4 separate regions of the Homo sapiens genome follow, and all the other regions are reported to be linked to region 2. The links are microRNA targets in miRTarBase. Many come from high-throughput screens and were not tested one by one. Region 2 holds a microRNA gene; each other region holds the end of a gene's coding sequence.
What was found. Region 2 holds the annotated microRNA hsa-miR-8063 (UCAAAAUCAGGAGUCGGGGCUU, at 5,527-5,548, shown strand). A microRNA usually pairs through its seed, bases 2 to 8, with sites in the 3' UTR of a target mRNA and lowers its output. Matches are read on the target gene's strand: a 7mer-m8 pairs with bases 2 to 8, a 7mer-A1 pairs with bases 2 to 7 and ends in A, and an 8mer does both.

Region 1: the mRNA of LIMD1 is a reported target of hsa-miR-8063. Seed matches in the 3' UTR shown: 7mer-m8 at 1,129-1,135.
Region 3: miRTarBase lists DTL as a target of hsa-miR-8063. Seed matches in the 3' UTR shown: 7mer-A1 at 1,225-1,231 and 7mer-m8 at 2,654-2,660.
Region 4: miRTarBase lists LSM8 as a target of hsa-miR-8063. Seed matches in the 3' UTR shown: 8mer at 6,412-6,419, 7mer-A1 at 6,267-6,273, 7mer-A1 at 4,809-4,815, 8mer at 3,129-3,136 and 7mer-m8 at 2,392-2,398.

Annotation. Positions count from the first base shown.
Region 1 is chr3:45,675,445-45,683,340 of GRCh38, reverse strand. LIMD1 (LIM domain containing 1) reads right to left here. Exons shown (of 8, transcript NM_014240.3): 8 at 1-6,419. The coding sequence ends at 6,282. It overlaps LIMD1-AS1 (LIMD1 antisense RNA 1), which reads left to right. Exons shown (of 3, transcript NR_033947.1): 2 at 3,270-4,295; 3 at 4,410-5,176. Among named protein-coding and RNA genes, the nearest start is that of LIMD1-AS1, 9.5 kb to the left of the region's middle.
Region 2 is chr15:36,970,483-36,978,378 of GRCh38, reverse strand. MIR8063 (microRNA 8063) reads left to right here and starts at 5,478; the gene lies at 5,478-5,558. All of the region lies in intron 8 of MEIS2 (Meis homeobox 2), which reads left to right.
Region 3 is chr1:212,101,968-212,109,863 of GRCh38, forward strand. It overlaps DTL (denticleless E3 ubiquitin protein ligase adapter), which reads left to right. Exons shown (of 15, transcript NM_016448.4): 15 at 875-3,046. The coding sequence ends at 973. Among named protein-coding and RNA genes, the nearest start is that of MIR3122, 28 kb to the left of the region's middle.
Region 4 is chr7:118,190,618-118,198,513 of GRCh38, reverse strand. It overlaps LSM8 (LSM8 homolog, U6 small nuclear RNA associated), which reads right to left. Exons shown (of 4, transcript NM_016200.5): 4 at 1-6,602. The coding sequence ends at 6,512. Among named protein-coding and RNA genes, the nearest start is that of LSM8, 10 kb to the right of the region's middle. RefSeq lists an enhancer at 2,427-2,486 and a silencer at 7,441-7,656.

The DNA of each region.
Region 1 (7,896 bases), not on the chromosome of region 2:
GGGGTTTTCCTTTTGACTTAGTTCTAGGAAGTCAGCCTGAATTGGCCTTAGGAAGCCAATTCCATGCCTCCAGACCCTATCTCCTGCTTCCCTCCCCTTCAGAGATGTCCCTGTCCTCCTCACCAGAACCTGTGAATATCTTATTCTGCAAGGTAAAAGAGGCTTTGCAGATGTTATTAAGAATCACAAAATGGGAGATTATTCTAGATTATCTGGATGGGCGTAATCCCAAGTGTCCTTACAAGGAGGCAGGGAGGGTCAGAGAGGAGGTGTGACAATAGAAGCAGCCAGAATGATGCAGCCACAAGCCAAGGAAAATGGGCAGCCTCTAGAAGCGGAAAAGGGGCAAGGAATGGGCAGCACCCTATAGCACCTCTGGAAGCAATTCGCTTCTGCCGACAACCTTTGGCTCGTGTCCAGGATGACAGAATGATATATTTGTGTTGTTTTAAGCCACTGAGGTTGTGGTAATTTGTTAAGAGTGGCCATAGGAAACCAATACAGACTTCAACAGAGCAGCAGTGAGCTTCTCCTCACAGCCTCCTGTGGCTTTTTGACTATGTAGCTTTGATGAAGAAGTATACTGATGGACAATTTACTGCCTCCCATCAACCAGAGTAGTAGAGTGGTCAAGACAGCACCCTCTGGATGAGATGGCCTGGGATGGAGTACTTACTGTTTATTTCACCCTTTTGTGTCTCAGTTGTCTTGTCTATCAAATGAGGGATGATAAAGAACATACAGTCCTTGGAATAACATCTGCTATGTGATGAGCACACGGGAAATGCCAGCTATTACAGCTGCTACTGCTTCATCACAGCACTTAGAACCAGACCAGATACCCCACTGCCCAGTCCCACATGGCCCAATGCCCAAGGCTGACTCTTAGGACTATGCCATCTCCTCCCAATCCCTGGTGCCAGGATGCCTTGCTGGTAGCTGGAAAGTGGCCATGGCGGGAATATTTACATCATAGGTATCAGCAAACACTCCATATCAAGGCTTTTTAATTTTTTGCCCCAGAGGGCTGGTTTGCCAGCACACCACAACTCCAGACCGCCTTTTACCCTGATTGCATCTTCACTCCTTATACCATCAAGGTCTTAAGCAAATAGCAGCCCATGTTGGCAAAATCAGACTAGCCATTCTCTCATCACTTAAAAAGAAAAAAAAAACTTTTATTCTGGTGTAAGGTGCTATGACTATGAGTATCCTCACTCCCAGCTTTCCCGTGTCCTTGGCACGTCAGACCTGGTAGCCACAAGGACTACACTGGAGTCTAGAACAAACTCTTTCCCCACCCCAAGGATTCTAACCACACACTTGGCCCCAACACTCTACAAGTCCTGTCTTCCTGCATGTGGCTGTCTCAAACCTGAAGGATCACTCGCCTTGAGGATTCTTTGGTCATAACCTCAGAAGAGAAAAAACAGTAACATTCACAAGAGAGACAAAGTGACCTTACAAGTCACTGCATCAGGACCTTACAAGTCTCAATCTTAAAGGTCCAGTAAAAGAAACTGCTGATTCTTGGGATATGATTCTCCAAGGCCTCTCACATTTTTATACATCTGGTAAGAATAGACACCAATTGCCAGGTTCCAGACTTATATTTTCAAGGATGTTTATCTAGTGAACAGTCTTGGATGACAGAGATAGTGTCTGTCTCTGGAGCAAAAGTCAGGCAGGCTTACTGCCCATTATCAAATACCAGGGTCCCCTAAGCATGGGGGTTCCTCTTGTAATGCAGCCCACTGCGTGTGCAGGTCTCACCTGGCCCTCTTCTTGGGGCCTGGGGCTCAGGGAACCAGTGTAAATGCTGATAATCTGGCCACTGCTATTGCTATAATAAACTGTCCTTTGTCTCTGACCTATGAGTCTCATAACTTCTGCCAGGATCCATGAACCCATGTGGTGTGCTCACTTTATTAGCCTGCAAGTAGGGTAAAATCTCATACCCTTCACAGGTTTGCTACCTATGTGGTACTTTTAAGAATCCAGAGCTGTAAAAGAAGACAAAGTCCAGGTAGCAAAAAACAGTTTGCTGACTCCACACACAGAAAAGACCCAGGAAATATAATGTTCAAGGAGCACTTTAATAGTCAACAAATTGATGCAGTTTTGTCACAATACTTTGCATAATTTTATAGTAACAGTAAAATTCTGAATCACTTTATAGTAAAAGAAAAGACACAGAGGAAAATAATTTCCCTGTACAATGAAATTTTCATACACTATATGAAGATTTCCCACATCTGTCAAGTTTTGGCTCAGAATAAAAGATAGCTAATATATTTCACTCTTTTTTCTGTTACTTTTTTTTTTTTTTTTGAGACAGTGTTTCGCTCTGTTGCCCAGGTCGGAGTGCAATGGCACCATCTCGGCTCACTGCAACCTCTGCCTCCCAGGTTCAAGCGATTCTCCTGCCTCAACCTCTCAGGTAGCTGGGATTACAGGCGTGCGCCACCAAACCCAGCTAATTTTGTATTTTTAGTAGAGACAGTGTTTCACCATGTTGGTCAGGCTGGTCTCTAACTCCTGACCTTAAGTGATCCACCCGCCTCAGCCTCTCAAAGTGCTGGGATTACAGGCGTGAGCCACGGCGCCTGGGATTACAGGCATGAGCCACTGTGCCTGGCCTTTTCTATTACCTTTAAAAGTTACTTCACATAGTAAAGAAATTAGGACTGATTCTTGGCATAAAGGAGGGTACAAAAAAAAATTGTGCCAGGTACAGTGGCTAATGGCCATAATCCCAACACTTTGGGAGGCGGAAGTGGGCAGATCACTTGAGCCCAGGAGTTCCAGACCATCCTGGGCAACATGGTGAAACTCGTCTCTATTAAAAATACAAAAATTAGCCAGGCGTAGCCAGTCATACACGCCTGTGGTCCCGGCTACTCGGGAGGCTGAGGTGGGAGGATCACTTGAGCCCAGTAGGTGGAGGCTGCAGTGAGCTGAGATCGCGCCACTGCACTCCAGCCTGGGCAACAGAGTGAGGCCCTGTCTCAAAAAAAAAAAGAAAAGAAAAGAAAATTTGGTTTCCTGGCAGATAGAGTTTTAACAAGCGCATCAAGCAGTAATAATTTGTGGTCTTGTGCTCAATTCTCACACATGATCTTTGCAAGCGTCCCAGCAGCCATCACAGCTCTACTTTCACATGCATGGGACACAGCACAGAGCAGCAGCCTTGAAAGGACTGCAAAGAGGTGTGAATTCCAAACATTCTCTTAAGTCCTAACATTTCTGTTCTTCATTTTGTGTGACAGAAGCCCATGGAAACAAGGCGATGACGGCGCTTGAGGGTGACCAGACCTCCTCAATCATTCCATCAGCCACCCAGGACTCAACAGCAGAACCTCAGAGGACTCAGCTGAAAGAGGTTTTCACTCGAGCACTAACCACAGAGAAATGGGAAGTGCCATCCTGCTGTCATACGCAGCCGATGGCTGGGTAGGACTAAATGCCCTTCTGTGGTGAGATGAACCAAGACGGCAGATGGGGGAATAACATCAGTGAGAGAGAGATTACGAATGGATCCTTGTATTGCAGATCAAACTGGGTTGTCTCTTCTCAAACCACCCAGGCAGTTTCTGAATGTCCCAAGATAGGGGTAGGAGAAAAGAAAAAAAAGACAAAACAGGAGACGGTGGGTAAGAAAACCTAAAAGGCACAATGAGGCAAAGGCCTAAGATGGAGGCTGGCTTTGGGATCTGAAATCCGGCCACAATCCTCCTTGTTTTACCTCAAGTCCAAGAATTGTCAAAAAGAAAACCCAGAAGGGCTATTCATTCTAAATTTTAAAATCTTTTCTTCCTGGCCTACCAAGTCCTTGTGTTTTCTTTCTAGGCGCCCATAAATACAACCCCATTACAGTTCTATTTGGCTAATAATTTACAGAACATTTAAAATACCGGGTAGGTGAACATCTCTTCATGGCTTTTGTGTAAGGGCCTGAAGCGAAGAGAAAAACAACTGATTGGAGATTCCTATCTGGCGCCTTCTCCAGGGAAACTGACAACCAGAGAAATCTGTTGCTAGGATTTCTAGGACATCTGGAAATTCCCTTTTTGTTCTTTCTCAACAATATAAAATGGTATATTCGCAAACCTATCTGAATCACCTCAATCTAGGCCACTTTGAAAATTTCATTTAAAAATGTAATCACAGATTTTTAAACTAATTACCCAATTTGCAAACAAATCCCAGCTACTTCTGGTCTTGAACATGGAGCAAAGGTGTGTCAGTAAGGCCAACATTCTTAGGTTGACAGAGACAGGTTAACACATTGGCTGGCTTCATTTACCCCCCTGCCACGCCCCACACTGAGCTGGATGATTTGATGGGAAGAGAGGGTCCCCACCTCAGGGTTCACTTCCCCAGCCCCAGCGTTCATGGGTTTTCAGGAGGCTCAGCCTGTGAAAAAGAACCAATGATGATGCACACCCTGGCTGAAGTGACATCTGGCCAAAGGATTCCAACAGAATGAATTCCATCAACATGGAAAAGATAATCCATGGCACCAATTCTGTGCTGCTTACAGGCAATGGTTACCAAATGAGTCAAAACATGGCCTAGAAGTGGAGCCGGGCCCAATGAAAAGCCTGAGTTCACACGTGCTAGGGGCTCCACTGACCGGCCTCTGCAGCCCAGCACCCAGTCCTCTTGCTCTGGGTGCAAGGTGAGGAGGCAGAGTGCACACACCGGCTCCTGTGTCCCCGGCCTGGCTGGCAATGGTAAAATGGGCTGCCTTTCTTTTGCAGCTTCTTCTAATCGAAATACCAAAGGGTACTGACCTCTGGCCTCAGGGATGTGACTTGCAGTGCAAATTTTACCTCTTCAGTGCAGAGAGTGGTCTTGAAATCTTGCCAGTGTGTGGCCCTCCCTCAGCTCCTGCCACCCTGGGGAGCCAGGATGCTGAAATGCATAAGGCAAAAGCACTGAATCGGATCTATTCCCCACTGACCTTTAGTTACGATCACTCTGCCCTGACCAGCTGGAGTTGGGCCTGTGTGAAGCCAGTGATTTCCAACACACTGAAGAAGGTATCTGAGTCCAGTGTGAAAGCCAAATTCCTCCTGAATCTGTGATTTGGTGAAGCTCTGTGAGGTATTTTTTGTGTGTGGAAGACTGAAAGTGAAGGGAAACAACTAAAAAAATTAAACAGACAAAAGCAGTGTACCTTATCCTGGTTTCTTCAAACATAATGCCTGTGCCAAGAATTGGGCAGGAGAGAAACCAACGAAATGAATATAATAACTTATCCTGAGGCGCTCCCTCCCACGCTGGCTTAGAGATCTCGCACACACAAAAACTCTCCTTGTTTATAAGAAGCTGTCTCTCAGTATGCGGGCAGCTCTTCCCAAAAGCCCGTCATTAAATAAGCTAAAAACAGGTGCAAGCGATGTACCTGCATGGGTTCCTGAGACTTGCCTTGCAGAAGCGGCCTTCCAAGTCACCAACTCTTGAGAACTCCAGAGAAAAACAGCGCAAACACGTGGGCAAAAAAAAAAATCCTGGTGCCTGCACCAAGTTCTTCTCCCAAAGTATGTTTTACTCACATAGGGCAAATTTCTGTCGCGGACTCAGCTGCCTTTAGGAGAGTAAGGATTTGAAGGGGTACAGAGAATGCTGTCAGTGTCTAAGGAGGAAACCCTGCCTCACCTATTTCAAATCTTGACTCTGGTTTTCTAAGCAAATTTATCTTAGGATACAAAGCACACATTAGAGCTTCCTTCTTGCCTTAATGCAATTAAATTTGCAGCCATTCTGCAGAAGAACTGAAGCTCTCAGGTGAAAAGAAGCCTTAAATCATGCCATGATATATGTCGGGGGAGGGAACATTTGGGTATAGGTATTTTCCTGAAGGAAGAGAAAGGGTTGAATGTATTGGCAGCTGAGCTGTCCCTTCAAGGGGATATTGTGAAACAAGCTCAATAAAAACCTCTCCCTCTGAAGCATGAAATGTTCCCAGAGGGGACAGGAGGATTCCTTTGGTGCTATGATGCAACCTCAGGTCATGTGCTCGCACATGCTGGAGCATTTTCCTGAGTAACCTGAGGAAAATGTGGCAACAGAGAAAAGCACTTGGAAAATACACGCAGGAGGCAGGTAGTGTTCACCTCCCTGGTTAAAGGAAAGGCACCCCCCACATGCTCACAGGAACTCTCCCTCCTGCCCCTCCTCTTCCCCTACCCCACTTCCACCCCAGGGGCCACCGGAAGCAGCAGCAGCAACCCCGGCTCCTCATCCCCTGCCGTGATGTCTGCAAGTGGCTCTGGCTAGAAGTGGTGCTGGTGAAGGGCTGTAGATGAGGGTCTCTTCTCCAGCCTCTTCACGTGGCAGGAGTGACAGAACAGGTGGTCCTCCAGCGGATAACAGCGGTGGCCATCTTCATCATTGAGCTCCAGACCACAGTCCTGTGGGGAGGCAGACATGTCCAGGGGAAGCAAAACAAAACAGACTGCAAGACTGACCTGAAGGCCACAGTCCCCAAAATCAGCAGAGGGTGCTGTGTGTTTCTGTATAGGCAGGAAATGCCAGTGCAGAAACACAGCTCCTGCCCCGTGGAGGCCTGTCCAACACAGGAGACACTGCCACAAGGCACTTGCTGTGAACCACTTAAAATGTGCTGTCAGTGTAAATGCAGATTCCGAAGACTTAGGACAAAAAGAGGATGTAAAAATATCTCATGGGAAAAAGGAATGAGATCATGTCCTTTGCAGGGACATGGATGAAGCTGGAAGCCATCATTCTCAGCAAACTAACAAAGGAACAGAAAACTAAACACCACATGTTCTCACTCATAAGTGGGAGTTGAACAATGAGAACACATGGACACAGGGAGGGGAACAACACACACCAGGGCCTGTTGGGAGGTGGGGGTGAGGGGAGGGAACTTAGAGGATGGGACAATAGGTGCAGCAAACCACCCTGGCACACGTACAACATATATCTATGTAATAAATCTTCACACGTATCCCTTTTTTTTTTTTAGAAGAAATAAAATAAATTGTGGAGTTACAAAAAAAATCTCATGGGTAACTTTTTTATATTGATTACATGTTCAAAAGATAACATTTGGATTTTTTTTTCTTTTTTGAGACAGTCTCCCTCTGTTTTCTAGGCTGGAGTGCAGTGGTGCGATCTCAGCTCACTGCAACATCCACCTCCCCCGTTCAAGGAATTCTCCTGTCTCAGCCTCCCAAGTAGCTGGGATTATGCACGCGCCAACACATCTGGCTAATTTTTGTATTTTTAGTAGAGACAGGGTTTCACCATGTTGGCCAGGCTGGTCTTGAACTCCTGACCTCAAGTGATCTGCCCTCCCAAAGTGCTGGGATTACAGGCATGAGCCACCACGCCCAGCAGGATTTTTTACTTTTTTAAGACAGGGTCTTGCTGTGTCACCCAGAGTAGAGTGCAGTGACACGATCCTAGCTTCCTAAGTAGCTGAGACTATAGGCACAGCATGCCTGGCTAATTTTTGTATTTTTAGTAGAGACAGGGTCTCACTGTGTTGTCCATGCTGTTCTCAAACTCCTGGGCTCATGTGATCCCCCTGCCTCGGCCTTCCAAAGTGCTAAGATTACAGGCATGGGCCCATGCCTGGCTGGATATTTTGAACCGAATAAAATAATTAATCTCACCGGTTTCTTTTAACGTTTTAATTGTGACTACCAGAAAACTTAAAATGATACATGACTTTAATTTGTGGCTCTCATAATTCTTTAACGTTTTAATTGTGACTACCAGAAAACTTAAAATGATACATGACTTTAATTTGTGGCTCTCATAGTTCTTTCTTTTTTTGAGACGGAGTCTTGCTCTGTTGCCCAGGCTGGAGTGCAGTAGCATGATCTCAGGTCACTGCAACCTCCACTTCCCAGGTTCAAG
Region 2 (7,896 bases):
ATTCTGCTACTACTGACAGTGTTACCTCAGGCAGGTCATTTAACATCTCAGATTCTGCATCTGTAAATTGCTCTAGGGATTAGCAAAAATGTAAATCACCTAACACACAGTCTCTGGCACATACTGTGCACTTAACAAAAGGTTAATCCTTATTGTTATTGTTGTTGTTGTAAATGCCAAGGAAATTAATTGGCCTGAAGACCAGAAACAAATTTGTATTGTTGAGAAGAAACATGGATTAATTGTTAAGAAATTTTTGTTTATAATGTATCATCTTACCAAATGCAGAGGAGGTACATTTAATCCATGGTTTCACCAGAAAATAACTGCTTATCAAAACTTGTCACAGGTTAAAGTTATGTCCTTGTAGAACATGTGCCTTTCTAGAGGGCTAGCAAGGAAAGTTTTCAATTGGGTAATTTTAGATCCTAAGCAGGGTATTTTGTGTATAGTAGTTGCTCAGCAAGCAGTAAATGGAGTGGAATTCAGGTTGTTTGCCTGGGCTCTCCTCTGGTTACACTTTTGATGCTGAATGCCCTTCACTGTGTGGTGGCCTGTGATCACTACAGCCCTTATTGAGAGAAAACACTCAAGAAGATAAAGATCAACCAGCCTTTTCTAAGTTTTATCTTTAGGAATTAGAGATAGGGAGTTCTGTAAATAAAAGGCTCCTGCTTTCTGTGTCAGCTGTTGTAGTTTAACTAACACATTGGACCTTTTGTGGCTAAGTTAATATTTATTGATATTTATTAATATTATTAGTTGACTGTGTGTTGGGCACTATGCTATTAAATACTTTACTACAGGAATTATCTTCTTTAATATGACAACTCTGTGCTGTAGGCATTATTATTCCTTCTAGTAGGTGATGATCCCTGGACTCACCCAAGATCACATGAATAGTAAATTCAACTGGGAGCTTGAACTTGATTCTCTTTGATGTCAAAAACTATGCTATTCAACACTTTGCTACTTTACTTCCCCATTCCTTCCAATCAACAAGATTTTTTTTAAGTTTGTGTTTCAGTGTGTCTCATTTCTTGCTATGTATTTCATGGATTTGATTTAAATCCTTTTCTTTAATATTGATGCTATGAGAAGCCTGGTTTTAAATAAGTATATAAAACATTCTTGAAAAGTGTGTTTTTCCTCAACTGAATTTTGGTTCTAAAATTTTATTATTGAATTGTTATATATATATACACTTACCACACCTCCCCTGAATTTTTTGTTTTGTTTTGTTTTGTTTTTTGAGATGGAGTTTTGCTCTTGTTGTCCAGGCTGGAGTGCAATCCCACAATCGTGGCTCACTGCAACCTCCACCTCCCAGGTTCAAACGATTCTCCTGCCTCAGCCTCCTGAGTAGCTGGGATTAGAGGCATGCGCCACCATGCCCAGCTAATTTTTTTGTATTTTTAGTAGAGATGGGGTTTCTCCATGTTGGTCAGGCTGGTCTCGAACTCCCGACTTCAGGTGATCCGCCTGCCTTGGCATCCCAAAGTGCTGGGATTACAGGCGTGAGCCCCTGCGCCTGGCCCCTATTTGAGTTTTTAAGTTTTCGAAGGCAGGGATTGTGTTTTACTCCTCTTTACAGTCCTTGCCCATAGTAGGTGGATAGTAAATATTGAATTGCATGTCTCCATTGATCATATTAGAAAACAAACAAAAATGATCATTTTCTATTAATCTGTTAATTTTTTTCTGCAAATGTATAAGCAATTCAGTATCAACCCTTAGATCTGCTGCTATTTGTCTAGGTTCCTAGGCACAGAGATATAGCACCTGTGCCTTCAGTCTCTGTCAGTTGTGGTGTGTCATAGTATTTAAGAACTGATGTTTCCAATGATATATATGTATAAGTATACATATAATAATATAATTATATACATATAATAATATAATATAATATACATATGGATATAGTTCTGCCCAGAAGAAGCCACTCTTACCCACTTACATTTCCATTTGCTTTCTTTTTAAAAAAATCTCTTTATAGGCCAGGCGCGGTGGCTCACGCCTGTAATCCCAGCACTTTGGGAGGCCAAGGCGGGTGAATCACAAGGTCAGGAGTTCGAGACCAGCCTGGCCAACATGGTGAAACCCCGTCTCTACTAAAAATACAAAAAATTAGCTGGGCATGGTGGTGGCCGCCTGTAATCCCAGCTATGTGGGAGGATGAGGCAGGAGAGTTGCTTGAACCCGAGAGGCGGAGGTTGCAGGGAGCCGAGATCGCGCCACTGCACTCCAGCCTGGGTGACAGAGCGAGACTCTGTCTCAAAAAAAAATAAAATAAAACTCTTTATAATTACTTGTCTTTTCCTTTTAATTTCCCTTACTTATAAAGTGTTGGTAGAAACTTTAAAAAATTGTTTATTTTGTAATTGACAAATAAAAATTGTATATATTTACAGTGTACATCATGTTTTGAAATACATATACATTGTGGAATGGCTAAACCCACCAATTAATATATGCATTCCCTCACATACTTTATTTTTATTGTGGTGATAATTCTTAAAATTTGCTCTCAGCAATTTTCAAGTATACGATACATTGTTTTTGACTGTAGTCACCATGCTGTACGATAGATCTCTTGAAATTATTCCTCCTGCCTACACATTTGCTTTCTTAATGTCATCTCACCTTGGACTCACCCTGGGAGTGGCTGTGCACATGAACATCGTCTATTGTGTGCCAGCCAAAACAACAAACAGTTGGAAGTAAAAACAAAAACCAAAACCTCGTTAGATTCCCAGCTCCACCACTCACTAGCTTTGTGACCTAAGCACATCACTTACCTTCTCAGACTGTTGTCAAGAAGGGAAAAATTGATGCAGGTGTATGTGAGGAGCGCTTAGCACATGGTAGACGTTCAGTAAATTCATGGAACTCTGAAAAAAAAAAAAAAACCCTTATTTTTTATAAACCCACCGCCTGGCCTTAAGAAGTTTCATGATTCTACTATGAATAAATTTAAAGAAAACTGAAACACAGATATGGGATTTAAAAAACAAAAAGGGGAAAAGGCAGTCACAGGCCTTTTGGGAAGTATCTGTACCTGAGTGATGTTAGAAAAAACTTCAGTATTCTGGAATTCAAAAAGCATTCTTCAAGCAGTTCAAGCTGCACTGATTTGAGGAGCATTTTTGCTTGCATAAATAAAACACTAAAAATGTTATTGAGCTATTCCACGGAGGAGATACATACCTGGTAACATAAGACTATGTTTTCATGCAGTTTTTATTCAAGGCAAAACATAAACCAATGAAAGGAAAACAGAAAGTGATAAGTAACGTGGCTATATTTTCCATGAACATATGGTAGGTGTTTAAAATGAGGTATGTCAGCTATTAATTCCCCAGGTGCTTGCCTTAGCCTTGATAATAAGGTTTTCTATGGAGGGATTTCCCATCTCTTGATATTTTGATCTTTGGGAAAATATGAGACCGACTCTTCTCTCTTGGGCACGTGTTAGCAGGAATATTTAAAAAGCATTTTGCACTGATTGAAATGCAAAGGGTTTCAAGAACAATTCTGATGAGTGTGTCTATCCTAAACTCAGTTATTTTCTCACCCCAAAACGCCAGAGAAACCAGAGACTAGGGAAAGACTGTTTTGTTCTCAACTGAACATGGCACGCAGATTTAACAGTAGGACCTGGTTCCTCATGCTGGCTGGTTCCTCATGCCATATCCATCTGATACTGGATTTAGCTTACAGAGGACGTTAACCCATGTAAGTCAAAGCCACAGACTTAAACATCCAGAAAGTATAAGGTGGGCTGAGGGGCAGCCCTGTAAGGTAAGATCTTATTTCAACGTGATTAAATGCCTTCTATTAGGAAAATTGCTTTTTTGCTTCTGTTTTTCATATGTAAATGTTAACGTGGTATGTCATAGCTCTCAAATAATTTGGGAGAATATGGAAAATCATTGAAATGTTGATAAACCAAATTATTTAATTTTTGGAATATGAACAATTTGATTTTTGGAGTGTGAACAAAAATATTACTAATGAAATCAGTGGACTTAATGGTCTTACTGGGGTCAACTTCTGTGGCTCGATGGAAAGAAAAAATAAACGAACTATGTAGGAGCTTGAAATATGAACACTCAGAATTCTGAAATTCATTTTTTGAATTTCACTATGATGTTTGGTGTTTTAAAACACAAAATTATAGATTCAATATCAGCCCTGATATAGAATGTTCTGAAATAATGAAGAGCTGGCATTTCACAATACAGGATAACCAGACAAGAATTTATCTGTACCTGAAAGTTTGGTGACACTCTTCGAATTTCTAGGAAATGGAAATGTGACTGATTTTTATTGAGAGTTTTCAAGGTCAAAGATAGGAACTGCTCTCAAGGCATGATAGCTAGAAAAATCGAGGGGGAAATTGATGTGAAATATTGCTGAATTAAGTGTTTAGAAATACGTAAGTACAAGTTCTGGCAGGTATCCATAGACAACAAGGCATATATCATCTTTAAATATCATAAGGTTAATTTTGGAAATCAGTGGATTTGTATATCTCACGAACATTTCAAGTGGAATACTGGCTTTTTTTTTTAAATAAGAAGAAAACAATGTCATTAGTTTTTAGGGTTTTTTTAATTAAAAGTTCAGTTACAGTTTTTTAGTGTTAATATTTTAACTTCTTATTTGAACGTCATTACTCCAGTCATCCTCTTTATTTTTTCAACTCTTATTATGTGCAAAGCACCAAACCTGATTCTTCTAATTACAACTTGTATTTTACCATGGCAATTCGGATAATTTAAAATAGATGAACGCTTTGGGTTTATTCACTCATGTTTTCTTTTTTAAACCAATGTTTTATAACACCTACTAAGTTCCAGGCTCTTTATTCTATAGTTTTATGCCTACTCTCCTTTTCTCCATTAGAAGAATGCAGATCTAAGCTTTAAAGAGGCAGCAGCATCCAAATAAGAGTCAGTGCGCTTAACCAAAGAACAGCTTTTAACTGTTTCCTAGTGAAACATTTTGAAATAAAGGTCTTTCTACCGGGGCAATAGGTGTTGTGCCAGTGTCACACCAGAGAGTAGAAGCCTTTGAAGAGCCCTTTTGTGACTTGGCCACTCTGCAAAACTCTGTGTCTGAATCCTCAAGCTAAGTGGAATCTTGATTATGTTTTCTATTTGTAAATGCTCTACAGCTTATCCAGCATGATTCTATCATTTTCTTACTTAATCCTCCCAAATACCTGTAAAGCAGGTATTATTGTCCTATTTTATAGATGAGCAAACTGAGGCTTAGAGAGATTAAGTGACTTTAGTTTCCGATGGCCAAGTGGAAACTAAAGCTTAGTCTTTCTTCCACAGCTGTGTTGGTGTATATCGACAAGTAAAAGATGTCTATGCAAACACAGACTAATTCTAGTACATACTTAAGAGATTTAAAAGATAGTTGTTCAGTCAGCCCATACAAAGAAATTGTTTCTTAGTCCTAAGCAATAGAGGCAGTTTCAACAGATGTGTAGACTTTTGATATGAGAAATTGGTTTCAAAATCAGGAGTCGGGGCTTTACTGCTTTTCATGCACAGAAAAAAAAAAGTGTATCTCTATGAATTGTCACAACTGATTCCTCTAAATTCTGCTTTAGAAAAAAAGAATTTGTTATACACTTGAATCTTAAACTGTAGTAAAATTAAGGTCTTTTGGAAACCAGGAGAGGTGTTGGTCCCTGGGGTTCCTTTGAATCATATCAGAGTACACTATTGAAAGAAGGAGAAAACAGGACAAAAAATATTTTAAAAGGCATAAGACACATAAATGAATTTTTAAAAATAGTTTCTATTGGCCAGGTGCGGTGGCTCACACCTGTAATCCCAGCACTTTGGGAGGCCAAGGTGGGCGGATCACTTGAGGTCAGGAGTTCGAGACCAGATCATTGGGTACCTTGAAGGCCATGATAAACATTTTCGTCTTCAGCCTGAAAATAATGGAAAGCCACTGAAGCATGCCAAGCAGTAGAGTGACAAAATCACACGGGTCCTTTGCAGGGATCACTCTGGCTCCATTCTGGAGAACAGAAGGAGGACTAATGTTAATGCTCACCAGCTAGTCAGGATGTTTGTTTTTTTAAACTCAGTCCTTTTAGTTACACTTTATCTCTTAAGGTTCATTCTCTTCCTACTACATCTTATCATAACTTACTTTTGTGCTACTCAGGCAGAAGTTTTTCTTTTTTAAAACTTTTTATTGACAGCATAACGGAACATCATGAAAAAATTTTGCCACCTGAAAAATACCATATTCTCATTTCTTCAATAAAGTTAGTTTTACATTTATAGTTTCTGTTACTATATTGTTCTCCTATTGATATTGCAATGTCTTTATCATATTCCATTGAGATGTATTAAAATTTAGTTACGTGTTGCTCCACACTTGGACATTTAGGTAAGAAGTTTTAACCGAGGATGACAGGGATCAGTGAAATGCTGTCCAAATATATTCTTTTCCATTTTGCAGCAATAGAAACTAAGTTGGGAGAGCATATTCTGCCACTTTCAACCCCAATTATGTGAAAATCTCCCTTTATGAAGAATGTAAAGTCTCTGAGTATTTGTATTAAGAGTAATGCATGTTGCTTAGGCTGTTAAGGAAATATTGATTTCTGACCCTTAACTGAAATACTTAGCTTTCATTTTTCTTCTTTTTACATGAATTGTGTATATTGTGTTCCCCTCAGGGAAAACTTAAAAGCATTTTGTGTTATGAAGGCTCCATTCTAGGATCTTATTGCTTTTGAGATGAATAAATGGAATGCTTGCTATCACTGGAACAGCCCTTTTTTTTTTTTTTTTTTTTTTTTTTTAATGTAACAAGGCATACAAGTAATACAGGGCTGAATTTGGCCCCAGAACTTCTGAAGTTCCAAGCCAGTTTCTTACGGCCAAATTTAGCTTCCAGCTTTCAGTTGATGAGGAGCTTTGGCATATAGGCAATCTAATTTTTGTTCAGTAAAAACCTCCTTGGGTGTTTTAAATATAACTTTAAAATTTGTATTACCAGGTGATGCTTAAGCATTTCTTAGACATTGACTCTAAATAATTGCTCAGAAAACAATGTGCCTTAAAGGTGTTTTATACCAGCCTTCGAGGTATTAGAATGAGATGAGTTGGCGCCAAAACATTTCAATATGCTATAAGGAGATGAAATATGGCCAAACAGGTTTTTATGTTCTGATTATTCCTTTTTCCTGTTACTAGCCAGAGGCAGGTAAATCGACTTTACATCCCCCACCCCCCCAAGCCCACCACCACAGCAATTTTATTTTTATCAACCCCTTAGGAAATTTCAGAGGGTTTTTTTTTTCCTATTCTTTGAACACATACAATGGGAAAATTAAAACTTCTAAAAGTTTCTTATCTATTAATCTGTTGATGAGATGTTGCTTTAAACACATTTTATATTACTAATTAATTTAATTATACATACTGCAGTTGTATTAACACATTTTCTGTTCTCTGCTCTAACGTGACACAGTGCCCTCCCGCAGCCACCTTAACCTAAAGCTTTAATTGCTTTCTCCTTAGCCTCAGCTCATGTTTGATTTATCTGATTTCTTTGTATAAAGATTCTCTAGTTTACGATGTGTACACAGTCATTAAATTGGTGTTGATGTTTATGCAGTGAACTTGCCAACTGGTTACAGCGGACATCCCTTTATGAATTTATGATGGGGCAATAAAGACAAGTGTCAGAAACCTCTTGTCTGGGAGGGGAATCACTTTCCTTGTGCTATGTTGGAGACAGTAATGTGGACACTTCCACTGATTTGTACAGCAAAGGATAATGTTGAAATCCAGATTTTCTTTCAAATCGTGGGCACTCTCTGATTTCTTGTAGGGAGATTTTTCAAATATTGGC
Region 3 (7,896 bases), not on the chromosome of region 2:
CAGTAGCTCTTGTGGTGGCGGGATGATTGAAATAGAATCCAGAATCATGATCAGCATCATCTGCCATTTTAAAGGGCAGAAGCTAGATAACCAACCTTAGGCCAGTTTTAGTTTAAAAAGTGTTCATAACCCCGACCTGCTCTCATGAAGACCTATCCCATAATTTTAGAAAAATAAACTGATAGATTTTAAAGACAACTTAGTACACAAACTGCAATCAAGACCTTGCTGTAGAAAGTGGAGAAAAAAGACAGTTATAAGGAATCTTTCCTTCTCTCAAAATTATGACTGCTCTTTATCCCTAGCCAAAATTTCTATTTTTTTTTTCAAGGGAGCTGGTCTCAGCTATGTGTTAGCAGAAAAGTAGTTTCAATGAAAAACTATTTTCACTGATACATAAATCTTAAAATCTTTAAAAAGTAGAAACAGTGTGCTGGTCTTGTAATTTATTTGAAGCTAACATTTCTTAAAAATTTTTTACCTTTATATGATGATAATGTCAACCTTCAGAAGAGAGTAACATCTTCCATTTGAATACCTATCTTGTTTATAAATTGGGGGGGCTGATTTATTCATTTATTTCAAAAAGGATAGTAATTGTAACTTATTTGTTTCTTATTAGGAGACTTAGCTAGTAAATGTTTTCTATTCACATAAGAAGTCTATGCCTTCTTTCCCTACATATCATCTGTTAAGTTTTTACTATAGTCAGTACAAATCAGCCAAAAGAGACATTGCCATTGAAAGTATTTGGAGCTGAAAGCAGGCTAAACAATGAAATTTCTGGCAGCCTAATTTAAGGTATGCCTTAGTAATAACTTAGTAACAGTTGAACTTCAAGGAAATCTCTGAAATCTAAACTTTCTTCTTCTAGGTCACCATCACGCCCAGCTCCATGAGGAAAATCTGCACATACTTCCATAGAAAGTCCCAGGAGGACTTCTGTGGTCCTGAACACTCAACAGAATTATAGATTCTAATCTGAGTGAGTTACTGAGCTTTGGTCCACTAAAACAAGCTGAGCTTTGGTCCACTAAAACAAGATGAAAAATACAAGAGTGACTCTATAACTCTGGTCTTTAAGAAAGCTGCCTTTTCATTTTTAGACAAAATCTTTTCAACGCTGAAATGTACCTAATCTGGTTCTACTACCATAATGTATATGCAGCTTCCCGAGGATGAATGCTGTGTTTAAATTTCATAAAGTAAATTTGTCACTCTAGCATTTTGAATGAATAGTCTTCACTTTTTAAATTATTCATCTTCTCTATAATAATGACATCCCAGTTCATGGAGGCAAAAAACAAGTTTCTTGTTATCCTGAAACTTTCTATGCTCAGTGGAAAGTATCTGCCAGCCACAGCATGAGGCCTGTGAAGGCTGACTGAGAAATCCTCTGCTGAAGACCCCTGGTTCTGTTCTGCCTCCAACATGTATAATTTTATTTGAAATACATAATCTTTTCACTATGCTTTTGTGGGGTTTTTTTTAAGTATGTGTAAAAATGTGATGCTCAGATAAGTACATTTATATCAGTTCAGTGTTAAAATGCAGTCTCTTGAGTTAAAGTCATCTTTATTTTAAATGCAGTGATAAATGTCAACTCTTCGGAGAAACTAGGAGAACAACAACAGAAAGCTGTGTTTGTCTTTTTTCTCTCAAATATATCTCCCGTATGAGATTTCAGGTCCCCATGTTTTCACCAAGCAATCTGCTATGTCAGCCAACCCAACATCACTTTCTACAGGAGGTTATGATTTTTGCCATTTACTAGAGGAAGATGTTTTATGAAATCAATTTGGGGTTTGAATTCAGGTGCAGTCATCAGTTCTTTAGGGGCTGCAATGTTTTAAAAAAAATAAGTCATCAGATTTTAAGAAAAAAGTGATGATTTCTTATTGATATTTTTGTAACAGAATATAGCTCTTAACTGAAAATCCAGAACCAGAAACATAAATCTTGAGTTTCTTTTCATGTACATAAAAAGCAATAGCCTTTTAGTATAGATAGCCCTGAGCCAAAAAGTAATAGAATTTTCTCTAGATATTTAATACAGAGAGTGTATAGACTGACTCTAAGTTAATAATGTGCAAAATATCTTAAACATCCCTCCCCTTATTCAACAATTATGTATCAGTGATCTTGAACCATTGTTTTATATTTTTCACCTTTGTAACCTCATGGAAAGAGGCTTTACATACTTTCTATGTACTATTTACTTAGAAGGGAGCCCCCTTCCAGTCATGAAACTTCATTTGTTTTATCCATATCCCTGAGGACTGTGTAGACTTTATGTCAGTTTTTGTCATTATTTGAAAATCTATTCTGACAACTTTTTAATTCCTTTGATCTTATAAGTTAAAGCTGTAACAACTGAAATTGCATGGATCAAGTAAGCATAGTTTTATCCAGGGAGAAAAATAAAAGGAAGCCATAGAATTGCTCTGGTCAAAACCAAGCACACCATAGCCTTAACTGAATATTTAGGAAATCTGCCTAATCTGCTTATATTTGGTGTTTGTTTTTTGACTGTTGGGCTTTGGGAAGATGTTATTTATGACCAATATCTGCCAGTAACGCTGTTTATCTCACTTGCTTTGAAAGCCAATGGGGGAAAAAAATCCATGAAAAAAAAAAGATTGATAAAGTAGATGATTTTGTTTGTATCCCTACCCATCTCCTGGCAGCCCTACTGAGTGAAATTGGGATACATTTGGCTGTCAGAAATTATACCGAGTCTACTGGGTATAACATGTCTCACTTGGAAAGCTAGTACTTTTAAATGGGTGCCAAAGGTCAACTGTAATGAGATAATTATCCCTGCCTGTGTCCATGTCAGACTTTGAGCTGATCCTGAATAATAAAGCCTTTTACCTTATCTGATGTCCTTTTCTGAGCTTTTTGCATTACCTAGAAGCAGTCTACAAAAAAGAACTATAGTAGTCAAGAATCCCTTCTACTTGTTCATTAAAATGTTTATTCCCAAAGTTATAATCTATTTCAAGCTGAAAGAGCTTTTAATAAAAAACATCTTGCTTGGATCAGACTTTGAGCATTTAAGATGGCTTGGATTACTTGATAAAGCAGGGTGGAGTGATGTAGTTCTTTTTCTAAACAAGTATTTCCAGCACAAACTTTTCCATTTGAATACATTCCAAGCACTATTGCTAGGATCCCGTATTAGAGTTTGCTTTTGGCTGTTTCAACACGGGCCCTTAATTAAATTTTGTGAGGATGACTGATTAGTGTCTTCAAATGTCTCTTCATCTGGACTGCACATTTAACTGATGTTGGATCAAGACCATGTGTAGCTACTCTTGTGTTGAGGGTCAGCCCATTATCCCCATCCCCAGCCCTAACAGCTTAAAACAGCTTTAACTCCCATCTTGAAATTAGCCTATGGCCATGTTCATAACATAGGTAGTGTGTGGGTTCAACAAATGCTTTTTGAGAGCCTGTCATAGCCAACACACTACTGCTCTTAAGTCTGTTTTTCTGCTTTTCCTAGTCCCTAGTTCCTTTTACATTGCTCTTAAAGCAAAGGCCAAGTAGTCTAACAGAGAAAAATAAATTCCACAACTAAGATAGTGTGGGCAACATTTTACAAATGTGTGTCAGAAGACAGACTGAGTGAAAACATTGTACTAGAAAAACTGAGTTAATTTCCTCCCTATGGCAATTCAACACAAGTGGTTTCTGCTTCATAATTCCATAAAGGGCTAAATGTAGGCCCAGTTGAGCTCTTGCAGTAGATCTCATTGCTTCTCACACAGGTCTTCACAGGGAATTCTTTGCCTGCCCTAGGTTTGGATCATGCCACATTACCAATTAACCCATTACTCATAAAATTCTCAGGGATTATGGTAAAAAAATTGGATTATGCATCAGTTCTTTAGATATTGGTTGGAAGTTATAGGCAGGCTGAACACATTTTGTTGGACTTGAGTTAAGTTTAATGCTTTGATGCCTGGAATACGACCCCAGCTTGTTATAAGTTAACCATTTTGTTCCCTAAAGTGGTAGCAAAACCTGTTTTATTTCTGAGCTGTGTTTGAGTGCAAGCTAAAAAGTGTAGGGGTTGTTAAGAAATGATATAAGATAAATTCAGCCTTTAAAAAAGAAATCACCTGAGCATATTAAGCAGCTTGTTTATATTGGTATGCCTGCAGCAAGCATATACATCACAAATGAGAGATATTGTGTTATTAAAGAATAGGCTTACTTGATCCCCAAAGTTCATCCCTTGCTAAGCCAGGAAAGAGGATTTTTAGGGTATGCAACCAGGTTCTTCACTTTGAATGTAAAAGGTTTAATATTCCATTTGTACTCCATTTCTCTTTAATTTCCTTAACTTGCCACATGCCCCTTTGTTTTGACATTCTGAATAGTTTATATTCAAGCCATTTTGTGAAATATGAATAGCACATTTCAAAATGCCTTTGATTGGAAGGCGTTTAAGTCAGCCAACATTTACATATCACCTGGGTGCCAAGCCCTGTGTGTGAGGCACCTGGTCTGCAAAGAGTTCCTTTCTTTATTTTCAGTTGCCAAAGGAGTCACTTTAATACTTCAGTAGGCCAGAGTCAGCATTTGAGAGAAACAGCAAAGATCAGATTTCAAGTCCTTTGAGTAAAGTTGTTTGTAATCAGCTATTATGTAGCAAGTACTGTCTAGAAGCCTACTTTTCCTCCAGGAACTTAATTCAGCAGCTGCTTAGAACTTTTAACTTCTCAAAGTAAAATACTTTTTGGATACATGTTTTTATTATATTCCTTATAAGGTTATAAATAATGGTTGAAAACATGATCCCTAGTGCCACACTGTCTAGCTTTAAATCCAAGCCCTAACTGTGTCCGTGGACAAGTTACTTAACCCTTCTGTGAATGAGTTTCCTACCTTAAAATGGAATTATGTGGGGCCGGACACAGTGGCTTATGCCTGTAATCCCAGCACTTTGGGAGGCCGAGGCGGGCAGATCACAAGGTCAGGCAATTGAGACCACCCTGGCCAACATGGTGAAACCCCATCTCTACTAAAAATACAAAAATTAGCTGGGCTTGGTGGTTCACGCCTGTAATCCCAGCCACTCGGGAGGCTGAGGCAGGAGAATCGCTTGAACCAGGGAGTCAAGTGGTTGCAGTGAGCCGAGATTGTGCCACTGCACTCCAGCCTGATGACAGAGCGAGACTCCGTCTAAAAAAAAAAAAAAAAAAGGATTTTTGTGGTTATTACATGTAAAGCTCTTAGGACAGTGCCTGGCACATAATACCTAATGTTTTATTAAACAGTTGCTGTTAGCTGTTAAGTATGGAGGGCAAGAGTTATTATCTATATTCGATACATGGACATAAAAGTTCAGCTCATTCCTGTTCCCTTTCCACTAACAGCTGCAGTCTGCAAAGGTCTTCACAAATCAGAATCAACTGGTAATTAAAAAAAAAACAACAAAAGCATGAATGTTGCCTGGACCTCCCAGTCCCAGCACTTTTCAAAAGGAGCAAGTAGGTCTGTGGGGAAAAATCAAGTTTGAAATTCATGACTTTGTCTCGCCAGGTACACATGAAAATTACGGAGATTATTTCATATGTGGCCTGTAGCCACTGTTCAAAGAGACCATAATCTTCAAATCTATATCCTGAACTCTTAAACAAACCAAAGCCTTTGCTCACACAAAGCCCACCCTCCCATTTCCTGACTGCTGCCCCCAGCTCTGCTACATTGTTTAAGATGTGATCACCTTTAGAGAGGAAGCTGCAGCTGCTGGTCTTTAGAGCCAAGAGCCAACTCGTACTTGCTTGTTGGGCTATTGTGCTCTCTTGCTTATGAGCAGACAAATAAAATAGGTAAAGTTCAAAACAAGCCATGTTGCTGTCTGTTAGTAGTAGGATACAAAAGAAGATTCAAACATTTCATTGAAGTATAATGAAGACTCTAGATTCTTTGCTCTCACTTGATGAGATTCTTCCCCAGGCTACTCTGTTTTTGATGCCAATAAAACTTGTCATTCTCACATCAGTGTGAAAATACCAGCCCTGAAAGTTAGCTTGATATTTGGGTGTATAAATCCAACATTGGGGTTTCAGCTGTCATCTAAGCATTGAATTTATGCTGCCACTGATGCTATTAGGGACCCTAGTTTCCAATTTACAGGAACTTAAGGAATGTGGTATGCTTTTATTAGAAGCTGGTATCTGCTCCTGCAAATAGTCCTGCCACCTTGTATCCCCTTCATGGGTTTGTGCCAGTTATCAATTCAAATGAATATGTTAAGAGCTGGGTTGTTTTTTTCTTGATAACAACCTTGCTTACTTCTGAAGTCAAGGTCTAAAAGTAATTATACAAATCAACCCTTTATCAATCTATTACCACATGATATATGTTACTGAAACAAAACTAAGCCATCTGGCCTTGCTATGTTGACATGGAGTTAGCAAATATTGTTATACCACGTCACTTGATAATCATTCAGGATGACTGTTAATTTCTCTTTCACCTTTCCCCCATCTTCTGCAATATATTCAAACACAATTTTCCAAGAATTATTTGAAAAGAAGCATAAGGAGGATTTATTAAATGTAACTGAAATAACTTATTAGTGGTTCAGGAACTGAGAAGTTAAAATCCAGTGGGCATTGTTGCCTCTATAAGAGGCAACATTCAGCCCAACCGTTAATGTCAAGTTGGAAATGCTGCTTCCTCAAAAGCCGTTTTGGATTTAGACAGTTTTATATGGGAGTAAGAGACTCAGAGTCCAAAAATCAATGTCTTCACAAAGAGGAAGACAAGTTAAAACGAACATTAAGATCTTGAGCGTGATTATGATAAACACTTCCCAACTCCCTAATTAGGTAATGAGGTATTGGCCTTGGAGTGCTGCACCTGTAATTAAGTATCTGGCTTTGGAAAACTCTCCTAAAACCAAGAAGTGTAAGTGACAGAGTCTGAAGTTATACACGGAAAGCCTGCAGGATAAGGAAAATTATAATGATTAGGAATAGTTTCTGTTCCAGTCAACTCTCCTGTACAATAAATTGCACAAAGAGAGGATGCTGTTTAGAGCAGCTTGTTAATTTGAGTTATCCTGTTGTGTCCTCTTGCCTTCCTGTTTACGTTGACAGCATTTCTAAGCCCATTTATATTCTCCCTTTTTATGTCATTTTGGCCACTGGACTCATTTGAGTAGTGCATGAAGCCAGGATTGTGGGTTTCATTCCTAAATGGGCCAATTCATTTCACTGTGTATTCTGTGGCCACAGGCAGCATCTCACATGCCTGCGCTAGCCAGCCACTCCACAAAGAGGAGTGGACAGAGTTTAGACTTAGTATAAACACTAGATGGAAACTCATAGTAGGTATCCTCACTACACAACCTGAAGGCATTCTCAATGCTGCCTGTCTTTCCTCTTCCTGCCTGAAGACCAAATGTATAAACCTCTTATAATCAAAGTTGTAGATTGTTTCATTTAGTGCACACTCCTATACCCACTTGTAACCCTATAAATGGGTATAATTATTATCCCCATTTTTTTTTCAGATAAGGAAACTAAAACACAAGTTAAATAACTTGCCCAAGGATATGTAGCAAGTGGCAGCTTGTGGATTTGGTCTGACTCAAAGCCCACAGTCTTAATTCCCATCCTAGAGTGTCTGTCCCCTGGCCCTCCCCATCAATCAAATATGTGCTTTACATTGTCAGTATATTTAAAAGAGAAGAACTCTCAAAATACATTTCCTACTAGAGTAATATATGAAAAAAATACTATTCCTTAGAAGAAACCATTCTTAACTATAGAAGGAAGGGGATATGCAGGACTAGAAGCTAGAATCAGTACTGAGAGTGTTAGAGGAGCACAGGAAGAAGACTGATGAACACAGTGATAGGAAAACAGGAACAAA
Region 4 (7,896 bases), not on the chromosome of region 2:
TGCCTTCAAACACCAGTTTACCGGGCATGTCATCTCTGTTACTGTCATGCAGTAAATACTCAGGAAATGAAGGATTACTAATGAGTTGTTAAGGTTTATTCTTCTTTCTTTAATGTAGAATTTCATTTGACCTAAAATTATCCTTCCAATCTTCATAGAATATTTGGTTTTAATATACAAAATTAAATATGCAAGCTCTTATCCATTCTTCATTTCAGATCTCTGGCATATTCTCATTTCTCATTTATCTTTTCACACCAAAGAAATCTAACCTTTTTATAACTTAATCACTTTGACTCTGGTTGCTCCTTTCTGTACTTTCTCTGCCTCGTGTTACTTTTAAAAATTTGATCAAATTTTTAATTTTAAAATATGTGATTAAAAACATCACATTACCTTTGCACCAGGGAAGCATACTTTCATTTACAATAAATTTCCAGTCCTGTCCAGAATTTTCATAGTTTTTCTTTTCACCAAAATTATCAGGGAATGCTATCAATTACTTCTTAGTACTTTTCCTAGGCCACAATAAATAATTTGGAGTCCATCATTCAATATCAGGATAATTGTTAGCTATCATTAATATTGACAAATTAGTATGTTCTAGGGAGTGCTAACTGCTTATCTTAATCTTGACAGTACAAGGAAGCAGGTACTCATTTTCATAGCAACTAAGACATGGTAAGATTAATATGCTAAGCTCTGCAAACTAAGTATGACTCCAGAGTCTGTGCCTTTCACTGCCATGCTACACTGGACTAGCCCAAGACCCTAATCAACAATTTCCTTTTAAAAATCATACCTCCTATGAGTGTGAATTGAAGTGTCTCTGTAATTAGCAGAATCACAATTAAAATAAAGCTTATCCAAGTCAGATTCAGAGAGCTATTTTTTAAAATAAAAATTTAAATTTTAAAATAAAAAATTTAACTTTTAACTATCATTGTGATCACTTTCAGGGCATTTATTTTAAAATGTGAAATAAGCCATAGTGCAGCATTTTCTGGCAACTTGTATCAGTTAATGAGTTTTCTAGAGTATGATTTATTATAATCATTTTGTTGATATGAGATGAAACATGATAGCTTGTGCATATTTTCATATATCAAACAGAAACATATTAGTTTCCTGCCTGTTCCCCACCCCAACACACACTAGTTTTTAATACAAGACACAATGTATTGTGTCCCTGGAGTTGTCTCCCCACCCACCCTGACTCCTGGATTCTTTTTAACGTATTTCAAATGTAATAACAATTTGGTACCATACTAATTATATGGCATTTGTAAAGCCAGTATATGTGGAAAAAAAAAAAAAACCTACATAATAGCAAAATATATGCAGTGTAATTGAACATTACCCTAAAGAGAAGAGAGAAAGCGTATCATATCCTTGTAGGGACATTGATGGGAATTTGATACCAGTTGTAGCAATGCTTGATCTGTGCCATTTCTAACAAGTAATACTCTGTAAAATAAAAGGACTTAGGCTGGGCGTGGTGGTTCATGCCTGTAATTCCAGCACTTTGGGACGCCGAAGTGGGCAGATCACGAGGTCAGGAGATCAAGACCATCCTGGCCAACATGGTGAAACCCCGTCTCTACTAAAACAAAAAAATTAGCCAGGTGTGGTGGCGCGTGCCTGTAGTCCCAGCTACTCGGGAGGCTAAGGCAGGGGAATCGCTTGAACCCAGGATGCGGAGGTTGTAGTGAGCCAAGATTGCACCACTGCACTCCAGCCTGGCGAAAGAGCAAGAAGTGTCTCAAAAATAAATAAATAAATAAATAAATAAATAAATAAATAAATAAATAAAAATTAAAGGACTTAAAAAAAAAGAAACATTAAAAAAAGAAGGAAATGAAAAGGCATAACAAAAAACTAACACAAAAATTGAGTTAAAAAAAAACTTAATGCCAAAACCAAGAAGAGGTCGGAAAGGTATCTGGAAGAACAATTCTCAGCTCCTTCATTCCCCAGATGATGCCAGTAAGTAGGAGATGGCATACTGTTAACTAATGAAAGAAATTCTCCTGGTGAAGTCCTATTTCGCCTTTATCCTTAGAATTATGCAACCTACAGACTTAGCAATCTTAAAAGAAAAAAAATAGATGGGGAAAATAATTGACTTGAATTATATTTATTTTAAAAAGACTGTTTCTAGTTGTTTTGAATGAATCCAGAACCCATAAATTATATCCCAGAATACTGAAAGAATCTGATGAAATAACACGACCTTCGACAGTAAATCTGAGTCAAGATGATTTGGTTGAGGTAGATACAGACAGATAGAAGCTTCACAAGCACAAGAATACTGTTCCCTGGCCTATCCACAGCTTTGAGCATACTGCCTGGCATGTATTAATGGCTTGATAAGTGTCCCTGACAAAATTCCAAAATCTATTTTTTTGAAGTTTGTGGACAGGTAGAAAAGAAAGCAATGGCCACTAGGAGGCAGCATCGATTTATGAAGACTAAGCACGTCTCATGGTTTCCCACTATACAGAGGAATGAAGATCACATCAAAGCATCTGACCAAATCTCACATCAATAATCCCTATAAACAGGATGGAGCATAAGTACTAGATATCTCACAATTAAATGAATTTGTCGCTAGTTTAATGGGAGCACTATGCTATTTAATGGGTATCAATCTAAATGGAGATAGCTTTACCTTATCAACATTTTTTTCAGTATTACATGTAGACAGAAAGGAATTTTTATCAAATTTGCCCATGACTTAAAACTGAGATTCACAGCCCAAGTTTTTTTAAACCCAAAATAAGTAAAATTTAATTTAATAAAATTAAATCTATATGAGGTAATGACTATACAAGTACAGAATGGAGAGGTTCCTCTTTACATGTGAAAGACCTTTGAGTTTACACTTTCAAACTCCTTGAGTCAAGAATATTCGCTGACATAGAAACAAATTTTATTGTACATTTCTTAATACTGTAAACTTACACGTACTTCCCACATAACCTCAATTCCTCATCTATTCTCTTGTAGAGATATGGTAGTCAGTGGGACAGACGCTTAAAAAGCTGACAAGACCTATATTTTTAACTTTTATACATTGGCCTTTGACTACCTGGAATAGTATTAAATAGCTGTTTACGGTTATGTCCTCAAAATCATACCAAATGTTTAAAATGCAGTCTAATGCTACTTTTTACAACCCAAGAAGATAGCTGTTATTATCCTTATCTTGAATAAGATCCTGTGTTTGAAATCAATTCTGTGGGGTTAGAGACTCATCCCAGCAGGTAAGTGCTAGGTCTTTTAATAATTCCACCACTTTCCTTCGCTGTTTAGTGACTATTCCTTTTTGCTCCATTACACAGCTGCTGAACCACAACGAGTAGGGCCCAAGAAAATTTTTAAAGCACCTTAGGTAATTGTAATGAAAACGGCCCACAATGCAGGTTTGGGAACTGCGTTAGATCATCTGAATATTTCTCATCAGGCTTCTGATAGATGCTTGATAGCAGATTTTAAGACTATACTTTCTGATAACAGGCAGTATTGTATAAAAAGCTGAAAGACCTAGTTGAATTTGAGCACTGTTACTTACTAGTGCTACCTCTTACAAGTCACTTGACCCTGCTGAGCCTCAATTTTCCCATATATAAAATGATCATTGTAAGCACTCAGCACCAGGCCTGGCACATGATATGCACTCAATAAATACTACCTACTAATTTTGAAGATGAAGGCCCAGAATATACTAACTATATTGTCAGTTAAGAGTTGCCTTACAACCCTGGCTACTAAATTGTCTGGTTCACATGCCATTACAAAGGGCCTTTACTTTCTCATTCCCATGATGAATCTCAGGTTACACGGCTGAGGAAAATGTTGACATCGTTATTCTGTATTTGCATTAAATACCATTTAAAAGTTGTTTTTATCATACTTATATCTCACATTATTACCTTAAAAATTCCGAAGGATGTTATAAAGTTGTTAAACAGGATGTTTAAGCAAATATTAGTAAAACTTTCTCTCTTGCTCTTCTGGGATCAAGATTTGTAATATTTAGCCAAAACTGTCAGCATGTGAGGCCAAGTTACCAAAGTGCTTTGACATAAAAGCAATGTTATTTTAAACTATTAGTTTAGATAGTATCTTGTCAGTTAAAAAAAAAAAAGTCCCTTTTGCAGTTAATTGCCCTTTCCAAATAACTTTAATGAAAATATCTTGCCAAGAAACATCTCTTTGATTCATTAAGCTGGGTTTAGATTGTGCCTGAGTCACAAAGCACAGAGGTAATTACAGGTTGAAATTGATTTGCGCCTCTTTATAAATAAGAACTGATTATAGAATAAATGTCTCATTAAATATAAAATATTGACACTGTATATTAATTATGTTACTACTCATGGTTGTGGCTCCCTTACAATTCTCATGCAAAAATAAATCCAATTTTAATCGGTTGTGAGAAAACAGTCCACCATGTGCTTGTATCCAGGAATAAAGAATTACATAGATTATCTGGCATATTGTCATCACATCCTCTGTAACTATTCATAAAAACAATAATTCACATTTTGGGAATGCTTTTTCCAACATCAATCAGGAAAATACAGCTTTATAAGGTGTTTCAGATTGCAAGAATACATCACATTAGAAACCCATTATCATGAGGGACAGGACTGGTTTTTATTTGTTTATGTGTAATGTGTTGATATGCCAAGTATTTTGAGAAAAGATCTGACTCTGGACTTCATTTGTACTGTTAGAATGCATTTTTCTTAGCAACTGAACAATGTGTATTCTTATTTAATTTTTGGAATTACTTTACCAATTCAAAATGCCATATACTACAATATTTCATTCACAGTCCCTAAATTTGCCTGTTTGCCTTACCCACTTTCCATCATTTTATTAATAAATTGATTATAAAACATTATACTACAAGTCAAGTACTTATGAATAGCCAATACTAGCTAACTTCTCTAATTCTCCCAGAGACAGCCCTTAACATCAACCAAATAATTCTAGAGAATAGTGCTTCTCCCCTTATAAGGCTGATTTGAGTGAAGATATTTTCCTCCCCCAAAAAGCTATTATGTTTAATAAGTATGAAGTTTAAAATATTTTAAAATATGAATGAAACCCACCTCTAAACTCTCTATAAGGATCTATTCCAGAATTTATACAAATTGTTCATTTTTTCTTATTGAACTTGTATTAAGCCAAGGGTCAGCAACTATGCCTTCAAGCCCAATCCAACCCCCACCTCCATTTTTATAAATGAAGTTTTACTGGAAGACAGCCACTATTCATTTATGTATTATCTATGGTTATTTGTAGGCCACAATAGCAGAGGTGAGTAGCTGTGACAGACCACATGGCCTTCAAAGCCTAAAAGACTATCTGGATCTTCATAGAAAAAGCTTGCCAACTACTATTTTTAAGCACTTTCATAAAAACAAAACAAATAAACTATTTAAATTTGTTTCAATTACAAGGATGTAAATATTTTTCTATGTTCTTCTCATCACAAAGACACACACTTGGGCCTATACATGAGTTGATCAGAAATTTTATGGACTAGCCTGAATATCTAAACACTACTTACATTGTTTCTTTCAATTATTTAAAAAACTGAGTTGACGTCTTCTGAAATCAGGTTTATGGATAATGAATCATGGAAAATTGCTGACAATAATAGCTAGCACTACTTCAATACAAACTTAGAGTTTATTTACTCACATTTATAAACTAACTTTAACATTAGAAATTCTCCAATTCTTAAAAATTAAAAATTGAAGACTACATGGAATCAATTTTTTTCAAATATACTGTCTGTAAAATTCAACATTAATGTGTTCATATTACTTTCATACCTAACCAATTGGGCATCAAGAGACTTTACTAATCATCTCTGTCAATTCTACCATTCCTAGTCATTCTTAATATTCAAGTTAGAATTTTGGGCCAATCTATCAAAACCTTGTTAGCATTTTTGCTTTTCTCAAGCAAACACATTTTTACCTACCCACACCTCTCAGTGCTAGGGAGCAACTTTTAGAAGCACTAGCAAACTACCACCAGTGGAATCGGATAAATGCCAATGATTCAGATAACTCCAGCAAAGATTTACCCTCCTGTGATTTTCCTAAACATCAGGGAAAGAAAACACATATATCCTGTATTACTGTTACTTGAATGCCTGATTTATATAGCACACTAATTTCTCTTTTCCACTAGTTTCCATAAATACTAAAGTATCAAAAAGTACTACTTTTTTCTAAAAGTTTTCAAAATGCCCATTATATTTTCACACTATTTAATAAAAAAAAGAAACCAAGCTACCAAACTTATATTTAGGCAAAAAAAAAGGTTTTTTTTTCAATAAAATGTAGAAATATTTTAATTTACATATTACAATGAATCAATAAGGAGTCAAAATCCAGTGACACACTCATAAAAACTCCATATATCATCCTCAGAATAATCAGTTTCTGTACAAAGATTTACAGATGTCCAAGTATGTAGTTTTTCCTCAGTGTGCTACAGAATTTAAAGGTTCTGCTCGAATATTCCCCAAATCAAGCGCAGAATCTGTTTCTTCATCGATTTCTCCAATGACTGCACTAAAAAAGTCAGAGTTAAAACAATCACATTTCTGAAATAAATTACATGTGTTTCAAAAATCTTACTAATCAAATCAAAGCACTGAGTACCATTCTTCCAAAAAATAAAACTGAGAGAGCACAGTAAAAAGAATTAAGGTAAAAAGCAAACAACATTGGCGTGAGTCAGTGAACTGCATATTTAAGTCACAAAACTCAAGAAATAATTTGAAGGCACATTATTACAGGAACCAATATTAAAGGACACATTGTACACAGTGATTGTATCATGAATCTTTAAAGGAAACAGACACACAAGGATAGACACAGTAAAAAACCCTCAAACTTCCAAACCATATTTCAATTCAATTCTAGGACTGTATTAAAAATAAATTTCACAAAATCACTCCTAAAATAATTAGCAAGTAAAAATATCAATCATTTGAGTAACTTTGATGAATTAAATCAATGATATAGACAACAGCGATTAGATTGTTTTCCTAAGTTTTCAGTTAAATCCAAAGCCAGTTCTTCATATACAAAAATAATAGTAGGAACAAGTACTTTGGTATCTAACAAATCATTTTTGACGTGATTGGCTCAGGTTAAAAGCTAGAAAATTTTTTCTTGTTCAACACTAACATAGTATCTATAACTTTAAATTCATTAATACCACGCTAGATAACCAACCCATAGCCCTCTAACTGGAAATATTCAATGTTATCACTCAGACCACAAGATGTCTATGAAATATTATTTTTAAAAAGTATTGGTTGGGTTTACATTTGTTTGGTTTTAATGAGAGTAAATTCTTTTTTTTTTTTTTTGAGATAGAGTTTCGCTCTTGTTGCACAGGCTGGAGTGCAGTGGCACGATCTTGACTCACTCCAACCTCTACTTACCAGGTTCAAGCGATTCTCATGCTTCAGCCTCCCGAGTAGCTGGGATTACAGGCGCATGCCACCACACCCGGCTAATTTTTGTATTTTTAGTAGAGACAGGGTTTCACCACGTTGGCTAGGCAGGTCTCGAACCTCTGACCTCTGGTAATTCGCCAGCCTCAGCCTCCCAAAGTGCTGGGACTACAGGTGTGAGCCACTGTGCCCGGCCAAATTCTAAAGACGAATACTAGTAATAAGGGATTTGCCAAATTTTGCTTTAAAGTATATAAAGTCTTAAATCATCTAATAAATGAAAAATATGAAACTCTGGCAGAATGAATTAAGTTTTCTCAAACTAAAGGCCTCAATTCCACTCTTAAATATTCTTAAATTTTAAATGATAATATTCAGTATCATTTAAAATCCCTATGGTA